Linked DNA regions of Homo sapiens. The protein of the gene in region 1 purifies or fractionates together with the protein of each later gene. This does not show direct contact. Each region holds a gene or a part of one and is shown on either strand. Other genes may lie near its edges.

Region 1 (5,249 bases):
CTCTACAAAAAATTTAAAAATGAGCCTGGCGTGGTGATGCGTGCCTGTAGTCCCAGCCACTTGGGAGGCTGAAGCAGGAGGATCACTTGAGCTCGGGAGTTCGAGGTTATAGTGAGCTATCATCGTGCCTCTGCACTCCAGCCTGGGTGACAGAGTGAGTTTAGAAATAATAATAATGGCAAGAACCTGAGGAGCTTCTTGTTTTATTTATTACAAACCACCTTCTAAAAAAGATTTGCTAATACTCATAGCTTTGCCAGAATTTTATATTATTCAGAACTAAAGCAAATAAAAATGTATTTAAATATATACTGTGAACATTTTAGTTGGGTGTTTTTCACTAGAGAACCAGATTTTTAGAATTAGGGGTAATTACATATCTTTTATCTTCCATGTTTACAAAACTACTCTGGTAATTATTTAGAGTATGTTACATTAGTTAATAGCCCATCTGCTCATTTCAGAATATCTTTCTGAAAATAAGAGATTTGTTGGAATTTAAATGTAACAGTGACTTGCAGTTGACATAGGGTTGCATCCTAGTTGCTAATGTGATTTTGCTGCATTATCTGAATTAAAAGCTGAATCACTCTAAAATTCATTTCCCTCTCTTTCCAGATCATGTATCAGTTGGAGGACTTGGAGACAGCTTCTATGAGTATTTGCTGAAGGCCTGGTTAATGTCTGACAAGACAGATCTGGAAGCTAAGAAGATGTATTTTGATGCTGTTCAGGTAACCCAATATTTAAATCATCTTTGCCACTCAGCCCTAACTTATAATTTGTATATTAATCAAGTTTTAATGAATAAGTGGTATACTACATGAGTGAGTTACAAAGTATTTCCAATTAGGTAGAGTTCGATATCTGCTAATATCATCGTAATAATGGTAATCATATTTGATGTTTATTTCTAATAGGGCCGTTAAAGTTTTTGCATGGTTTAAACCTCAGTTAAGAGTCACATATCTGAAAAAGTAGTATTCTTTGATAAATATGAATTCTCTCCTTAGGACCACAATTTAAATTATGCAGGGGGAAATCCTGAATTTGTATTCTGACAATTGCCTAAGTTAAAATTGCCTGAGAAGACAGACAGTCCCAATGGCTACCTCCATGTGAAGTAAACTTGTCCCCAGAGATAAATGGACAGTACTCTAAGGAAATCCACACATAAAAATCTGAACAAACTCATATTTCAGGGAAGATCATTAATAGTATCAAAGATTCTTTACAGTGGAGAAGTAAGAGGCAACAGTTGAGTGTTGAATTGCCTACCATGTGCTAAGCTGTGTGTTAGGTAGCTCCTTTAAATGAAGCGGTGGAGTTGGGTTTTTTTCTCTCTCACAGTACTTGAGATTATTACCCAGTTTTACAGATAAAGTTGCTGTACCTCAGAGAGATTACATGTCGAACCAAAATTAAGATTAAAGTTTGTCTATATCAGCACCTGTTCCTTTTAACTCATCCACTGTGGATTTATTTGTAAGAATTTCCATTCTACACTTAAATCTTCATTTACTAATTTGCAAGCAGTAAGTTAGTAAGGTAAGTTAGAAACTACTTAAAGTCTCTAGGAGGAGGCTAGTATAAAAGTAAACTAAGAAACACCTCCAGTTAAGCCTCAATCAAAACCGAAAATAAAGTTAGAAAGTAAATAAAGTTAGAAAGAAAATTACTTTATCTAAAATATTTGTACTCTTCAGGAACAAAATTTTTTAGTGGAATCAGGTGCTTTTGCGATTAAGTATTTTATGTGGTAATACATATATTCTTTTAATATTATTATCAAGGCTTCTCAAGTAGTGTTGTAAAATAGTGGCTCAGTCCTCAGAAAAATTTTATTTTTCTTGACAGCTTAGAAATTTTTTAATAAAGTGTTAATTCATAGGAAAAAAATGGAAATTTGTAATCCCAAAGATGTAGCCATTATAAAATTGGTCTTTCTAACAAGAGGTCTGGGTTATTTTGACATAGGCGTACTTTTTTATTTAAATATAAATGCAGCTTGCTTTGTTCTGGTTAACTACACTGAGTATGACATTGGTTTCCTTTACAAGTCTTCACTACTTCACATGTAGGAACCAGAAGCGCCTTAGTGAGAACGTTGGCCTACATTTGGCACAGCCTTTATAAAGGCACATGATTAACATCAAAAGCAAACTAGGATATGATCCACATGGCCTCTTTTAGGTTTATTTTTCCTCATTGCTGTGAGGTTTCAGATTTTAACCTGGGGAGTTCTCCATATTTTATAGTTTCCATTCTGTCATCCTCTAATTACCATACTGGCAGACATTTTAATTATTCTAATCTTAAATTGGCCGTCTAAGATCTTGATGTTCAAAAAAAGACAGCTTTAAAATATTATTTGAAATATTTTCTTCCTAATTCCTAAAACCATACCCACACAACTTTTAGTATATTGTATTCAGACAAATCATTGACAGGAAAATCCATTAAGAACAAATGAAGTCAAAGTGTTTCCTGCTTCTCTTAGTAGTAAAAGCTAATTTTCAATCCACTGTATATTTTCAACTTAGAAAGCAAAGCTAGAACAACTAAATTTCTGTTTTGAGAAGTAGCATTGTCTTATACAGCAAAGTTTATTTCTGCTAAGTTGTACTTTAGAAGATTATTGTAACCAAGGGGAGGATGCTGTACACTATTGTTCTGGACAATTGATTACTGAAGATATGGCTACTCTGTTGTAGCTTCAAGTAGATTTTGGGAAGCATTTAATCCCAGAGTGATATGTTTTATTTGATTATTTTAATAACAAAATATTTTGAGCTTTCAACTGGCTATCATGGCCCTATCTGGAGACTACACTAGGAACTCACAATGGCAAATGATACCTGGGCAGAAGACATATCAGACACTTACGATTCTGAAGGCTTCATCAAACCAGTTTTTTAAATCAATTATACAAGGATTAAATCACAAAATATATAGTACTCTTTTTTCTAATCAATTATCTGTATCCTTGACACAGTTTTTTCAGATCTACTAAAGACTATCCTTCTTTGTATTTATTTATATTTCCCATGGCCACACAAAATTATTGCTTTGAAGGTCTTGGAATTTCATTGTAGTTTTTATTAGGAGGTAGCAACTTGGTCCGAATCATGCCAGAAATACTTTATTTAGGATCCATAACAGGGTAATAATGTTTCTCTAATTCATCCTCAAAAGCTACTACTCTTGCCATGTAGAAAGAATAATTTCTTAGGTGATGAACAAGTATCTGCTTGAAGGACTTTATTGCAATTTGTGTTATGAGAAGTATAAATAGCTAAGATGTTCAGTCGCATAAAATAAGAATGAAATATTAATGTAATAACTAAACCATCAATAACATTAGCTTAACCACGGTTAATGAGCACAGTAATATGTTCATTTATTTCTTACCATCTTGGTTTCATTCGTTTATTTCTAATAAAGGTAGGAAAGGTTTTAGCTTCCTGTGTGTTCATTTTCATTCATTCTTCTCTATCACAAGTTTTTTTCTGTGTCTATTATTCCCAAATGTGCTTCCTAACAAATCCCTCTCTCTTGATAGCAGTGTACAGGTATAGACACAGTCATGTCCTTTTTCCTTCCATGAAGTAATTGTGGGGCAGTGGGGAGAACATTTTCTGTTAGAGTAATTGGAGATTAGCAATGCCAAACACACTTTATTTTTGCTTTTTAAAATATAAGGCATATTTTACTTACCTGTCTAGTTTAAGAGAATATCAACAGACCTGGGATAGAAATAAAAGATGTTTTATAAATCATTTTTGTAAACATTATCATTTCTCCCAAATTTAAAGATTTTTCTGATTTTTAAAATATATACATTTATTCATTATATAATAGTGTGCTTTTTAATAGAAGTATTAGAGAGGAACTTGATTCAAGCGTCACCACTTTGGAGATGTAAATGATAATTATAAATGACTCTTATCAAGTGCCACTTGCATTAGTGACTGCTTTATAAACAAAATGTGGCAGAGTCGTATCAGGAGATCCTGTTGTTCCCATTTATGGATTAGGATGCTGAGATTTAGAGATATAGTAAGCAAATTGTTCACTCCCACAAATTAGAGATAGTGTCAGAGCTGGAATTTGAAGCCAAGTCTTCTGGCCCCAGAACACCTCCTCTTTGCCACTCTATTTTGTTATCCCTCCAAGCCTACAGAAGTGAAAGGAAGAGTTCTGCCACCATCCTGGATCTCATGCACAAATATGCTGTGTTCTTCATCCACCTTAGGGCCTGGGCTGTGTTATTTCACCACTTATGGAAATGAAAATGTACCAAACCAACTATTACTGCTGCACAGTGGCCTGTCTTTGGGAAGGAGAAAGTTTTTTGAATATGAGGAATACAATGTTTGGTCACAGAACCAAGCAAAACCAAATGTGCTGGCGCAGCAGTGTTAATTCTGACTAATCAAACAAATAAGGCATAAACTAGAGGAGGAATACAGAAAGCAATAGCATGTAATTTCAGGTTGAATGGATTTTTAACACCAAACTCTGATTGTCAGGTGTATTCTATTCTTTTTTTTTTAATGTTGGGCATATTTTTAGTATAAATTTGAGAAGAGATTACAAAATGTTAAAAAATAAGTGTTTTTCACAGGCTATCGAGACTCATTTGATCCGCAAGTCTAGCAGCGGACTAACTTATATCGCAGAGTGGAAAGGGGGCCTCCTGGAGCACAAGATGGGCCACCTGACCTGCTTCGCGGGGGGCATGTTCGCACTCGGGGCTGATGCAGCTCCCGAAGGCATGGCCCAACACTACCTTGAACTCGGGGCTGAAATTGCCCGTACTTGTCATGAATCATATAATCGAACATGTGAGTACATGTTATTCTTCATTTATGGTCTATTCCCACATGCTTTGATTTAATGCAGTTTTGTCATTGCTGCCCTCAAAAGACTATCCGCTCTGCCTATGAAGCTTGATGATCGTGATTAATGTCTCAAAGGAATGTATATTTTATTTTAAAAGGCAATGCTTTTCTTCCTAAAAATATCTACCTTTAGTTTACCAAGAAACAAAAATCCAGGCCATAAAGAGTTAAAGCCAGCCTAATTTACTGACTTCTGCTTTTGCCAATAACATTGGGCAAGGGTCTCTATCTCCCTGCAAAGAGAAACTTAGCATTTTATTAACCATTATTAATCTTCTCCACATCCCCCATGAAACAGATCATGAATCCCACTCCCTTCTTATAAAATAGGAATTTGAAACACAA
Region 2 (4,374 bases), on another chromosome or scaffold:
ATCCTTGGAAGACCACCAAGGACTTTAGCTCATGCAGTGCAATTTCGCACCACTTTCAACAATAACAAAAATGCATGACTGAATGGCTCAAAAATGTGGAGTGTTAGAGGCATTCATTTGAGTCTAGGACACTGTCACAACACAGACAGACCCAAGTAAATACCTTTAGACGGCCAGTATAGAAACAGGCGTAATCTTTACCATCACCCTGGCCTCTCCAGATGCATACATTAGCCTTGTCTTCTCTGAGCTACACTCAGATAATTTTGGTCATTTTTTAAGGGGGATAGTCAATATAGTGACTTGTATTCAGCCTAGGTCTGGATGGATTAATTGCCAGGCACTTTGCCTGGGATGGGGAATGTGCTTTTTTCAGTGCAAAACACCCAGGATCATTTTCCAGGTGAAGTATCACAAAGTCTGGGTACCTAGCTCATTGAGCCCCAGGCTCAGCCCAAGTTTAATGTTTTATTCCAGATGGCCTTGCACTTGCCTTCTAGAGGTTTGAACAGGCTTTAAGAATACTCCATGTTCTGGAGGAGTCTCAGTCTTTATAGATCATAGTTAGGATCATCTGATGTGCTCTCAAGGGTGTCAGGGAGTACATCATGCTGACAGGGCTTCCAACTGAGGTCCTGCATTGCCTGTCTGCTTGACCCCTGTACTTTTCAAATAATGCTGAGTCCAGGTGCCATGATCAAAAGGGATCTTTAACACAAAGATTATGTTTTTGTTCAGCTTTCAATGGCCATGTACTTTTGGAGCGCCCACTATGTGCAGTATCCTCTGCTCAGCATTGTGGAGACAGCAAGAAAGGCAGGAGGGGCTTCTGCCACCAGGACCTTTCCTATTAGTAAGGAGATAAGCCACGCACACACAAAATTAGAATACAACACAGTGGTGATAAGTGCCATACAAGCGATACAGATGACGAGAAGGGAGTGCCCAGGCATTTCAAAGAGAGAAGGGATTTAGGACTCTAATACTATAGAATATTAACTGGGTAAAGCTAGTTCACTAGTAAAAATGAAAATACTAATGAAGATAAGTTTAAAAATCTAACCATTTTCATTATGCCTCCCTCCATAAAGACAAAGGTAAAGGGTATGCAACAATGGGCATTTTATTACTCATCTATGTTGAAATTGTTTTTAAGAGTGAGGCAGTGGGTTAGAAGCATTCATGAACTTGCCAAAGGTCCTCTTCACAATGACATTGAATGATACTCAGAACTTTGTGCCCTAGTTGCAGTTTTGGAGTTTTTATTTCTTGTTCCCTTCTGTGTTCATGAGCAATGCACCTATGATCATGTGCTCACACACACATACATATGTACATGCACAAAGGATTCCAGGACTCCTATAAGCTGTTATGACTACGTGGAAAAAAAGTACGTGTGTATGTGTGTTGGAGAGGTAGCAATACTTTCTAATAGTGAGTTGATTATATATGACACACAGCATGTGTCTTTAAGATTTGTATTCCGCCTTCCCCACCGTAAGTAATGTGTTGGATTTTGCAATGAATCTGTGATCTCCTGTTTTGTTGGAATCATCAATTTGGCTCTGTGTTTCACTTGGGGAGGGTCGAATTGAGCCACAGGGCCTATCACTGTAGAAATTGTCCCAAGTAGTTTACAGGAGGTATCTTCTGGACATGTTCAAAAAAGAATTTAGTTAAAGTTCTGGCTTATGCAGCTCAGTCTCTGGTTAGAACATATAAATATAAAATGTCTGATTCAGCATAATTACTGTTTTCCTTTTTTATTTGATTCACGTTGGGTTGCATGCAATTTCAGGATTAACTGGAGACTAGACTGAGGAATGAAAAAGGAAGTTTTTTGTTATGTGTACAAGGGAAACAACATTGGCGTTAATCTGAGGCAGTTGGAAGTGAGTCTCTCTGGCTCCCCAATGACATTAACTGTTTTAGCACTGAGGTTTTTTTCTTATTTATGTTTTTAAAAATGTATTTTGGCCTCATGATAAGAGTTCGTAGCTATTGAATGCTTTCTCTGGGCCTGGCCCTATACCAAGGAACTTACATGATTGTCTCATTTAAAACCCACAACAACCATATGACATCAGAATTATCATCTCCATTTTATAGACAAGAAAACAAATTCAAAGGGATTATGAAATATGTTCACAATCTTATAGCTAATGAATAACAGAGGTGGGATTTGAACCCAGGTCTTATCTGTTCTAGAGTATAGTTCATGCTATGTTGTACAGATAGTAAGACAAGAAAGTACCTTCTCTATTCCCATAGAGGTTGTTGAGATATAAAGTATGGGAGGACCCTCAGCTAACTAGTAACAGACCATCATCAAAACGGCACAATTTTCGTGTTATAGTGGAGAGGATCCAGTCACATCTTTTGTAGACAAAATGTCAAACCCAGACATAGACAATCTAGTGTTAATGGTAGAAGGAATATAAATTGTATTTCCTGGACAATACAATTGAGCCAATGAGGGTTTCTGAGGGAGGGGAATGTCGTCAGTCAAGCTGTTTTAGGAAGATAACTAGTGGCTCTTTGGGTTAAGGGTTGGCGAGGCAAGAGATAAAGACAGGGAGGTCTGTCAGCAGACTCTTTTTAAATAGTTCTTAACTGGTCTACCTGCCTCTTGTCTGTCCCCCCCTCCTAAATCCCTGTTCTATCCTGAACATCGCCAGCTTAATTTCCTTACATCACTGCTTTGATTAGAGTTATTCCTGTGCTTTGAGCTTCAGTGGCTCCAAGCATCTCAAATGATACTTCTTTCATTGAGTCACTTCTGAACTCTCCAGGGTTATGTGCCCACTTCTTCCTAATTCCCTGTTGGAACCAGTCCATGGTCTTTGTACATAACTGCCTTGTATTATAGTTAACTGTGTGTGCAGGTACGTGTTTGTCTTCTCAACTGGAAGCAACTTGAGGGCAAAGATGACAACTCCTCGTCTTGTCTGTGGGTAGCAGTACCAAGTGTGGTAGGTCAGTGCAATATTTGTTAAACAAGTGGGAGAATAACATAGCCAATTCTATTGTGTTCTCTGTCAGACACTAGTGCTACAATGAGATTATACTGCCTTGATGATAGATTGTCATTCCATGGTCTGTTGATCTCCTAGGAATCTTTTGGATCTAAACACTTTTTTTTTTTTTTTTTTTTTTTTTTTTTTTTTTTAAGGCAGGGTCTCACTGTTGCCCAGACTGGAGTGCAGTGGCGTGATCTTGCCTCATCGCAACCTCTGCCTCCCAGGCTCAAGCAATTCTCCTGCCTCAGCCTCCAGAGTAGCTGGGATTATAGGCATGAGCCACTACCGCCTGGCTAATTTTTTTTTTTTTTTTCCAAGATGAAGTTTCGCTCTGTTGCCCAGGCTGGATTGCAGTCGCGTGATCTCGGCTCACTGCAATCTCCACCTCCTGGGTTCAAAGGATTCTCTTGCCTCAGCCTCCCGAGTAGCTGGGATTATAGGCGTGTGCCACCATACCCGGCTAATTTTTGTATTTTTAGTAGAGACGTGGTTTCACCATGTTGGCCAGGCTGGTCTAGAACTCCTGACCTCAAATGATCCAGCCTCCCAAAGTGCTGGAATTACAGGCATGAACCACCATTCCAGGCCTGTATCTAAACACTTTGAAGTGAAATAAATTTAAAGTAAATATGCATATGTTGGTATAGCTTGGAGAACGTTTTTATTCTTTTGGGGGAGTACTTGTCTTTACCACTTCATTAATAACTGAATGCTTATAGGATTTTTTTTTATTTTTTGAAACAGAGTTTCGCTCTTGTTGCCCAGGCTGGAGTGCAATGGCACGATCTCAGCTCTCCGCAACCTCCGCCTCTGGTTCAAGCCATTCTCCTGCCTCAGCCTCCAGAGTAGCTGGGATTACAGGCATGCACCACCATGCCCGGCTAATTTTGTATTTTTAGTAGAGATGGAGTTTTTCCATGTTAGTCAGGCTGGTCTTGAACTCCTGACCTCAGGTGATCCACCTCGGCCTCCCAAAGTGCTGGGATTACAGGCATGAGCTACTGCACTGGCCAGGAATTTTTCAGAAAGATTCAGAATTGTTTTTCTTAATGCCTTGAGATACACTTCTTTAAAGAATGAACAGTTGAGACTGTTGTGATTAGGCAATTTAGAGCAAATTTACCACATGCAACTGTTCAGTGTGCATCAGTTACCTTTTAACATAAAAAAACTCAAGTTTATTGTCTTTACCAAGAAGAACACAAGCTTTGAAGGGTATCAGAATATTTTATATAAATAAACAGACATACTAAAATACAAACAGGTAAAAACTAGCATTTTCAAATCTACTTGGTTAAACATCTGTTGCTTACTATAGAGAACATGAAAGTGCAGAAAATGCATGAAGCGATTC

The links. The genes of interacting proteins can lie anywhere in the genome.
Region 2: the proteins of MAN1A1 (region 1) and GPC4 purify together in Homo sapiens (affinity purification with mass spectrometry; one large-scale study listed by BioGRID and IntAct). This does not show direct contact.

What each region holds. Positions count from the first base shown.
Region 1 is NC_000006.12:119,189,262-119,194,510, reverse strand, and holds part of MAN1A1 (mannosyl-oligosaccharide 1,2-alpha-mannosidase IA), read left to right. Parts: intron 1-618; coding exon 619-734; intron 735-4,627; coding exon 4,628-4,847; intron 4,848-5,249. UniProt on the Homo sapiens protein: Involved in the maturation of Asn-linked oligosaccharides. Progressively trim alpha-1,2-linked mannose residues from Man(9)GlcNAc(2) to produce Man(5)GlcNAc(2).
Region 2 is NC_000023.11:133,408,116-133,412,489, reverse strand, and holds part of GPC4 (glypican-4 precursor), read left to right. Parts: intron 1-4,374. UniProt on the Homo sapiens protein: Cell surface proteoglycan that bears heparan sulfate. May be involved in the development of kidney tubules and of the central nervous system.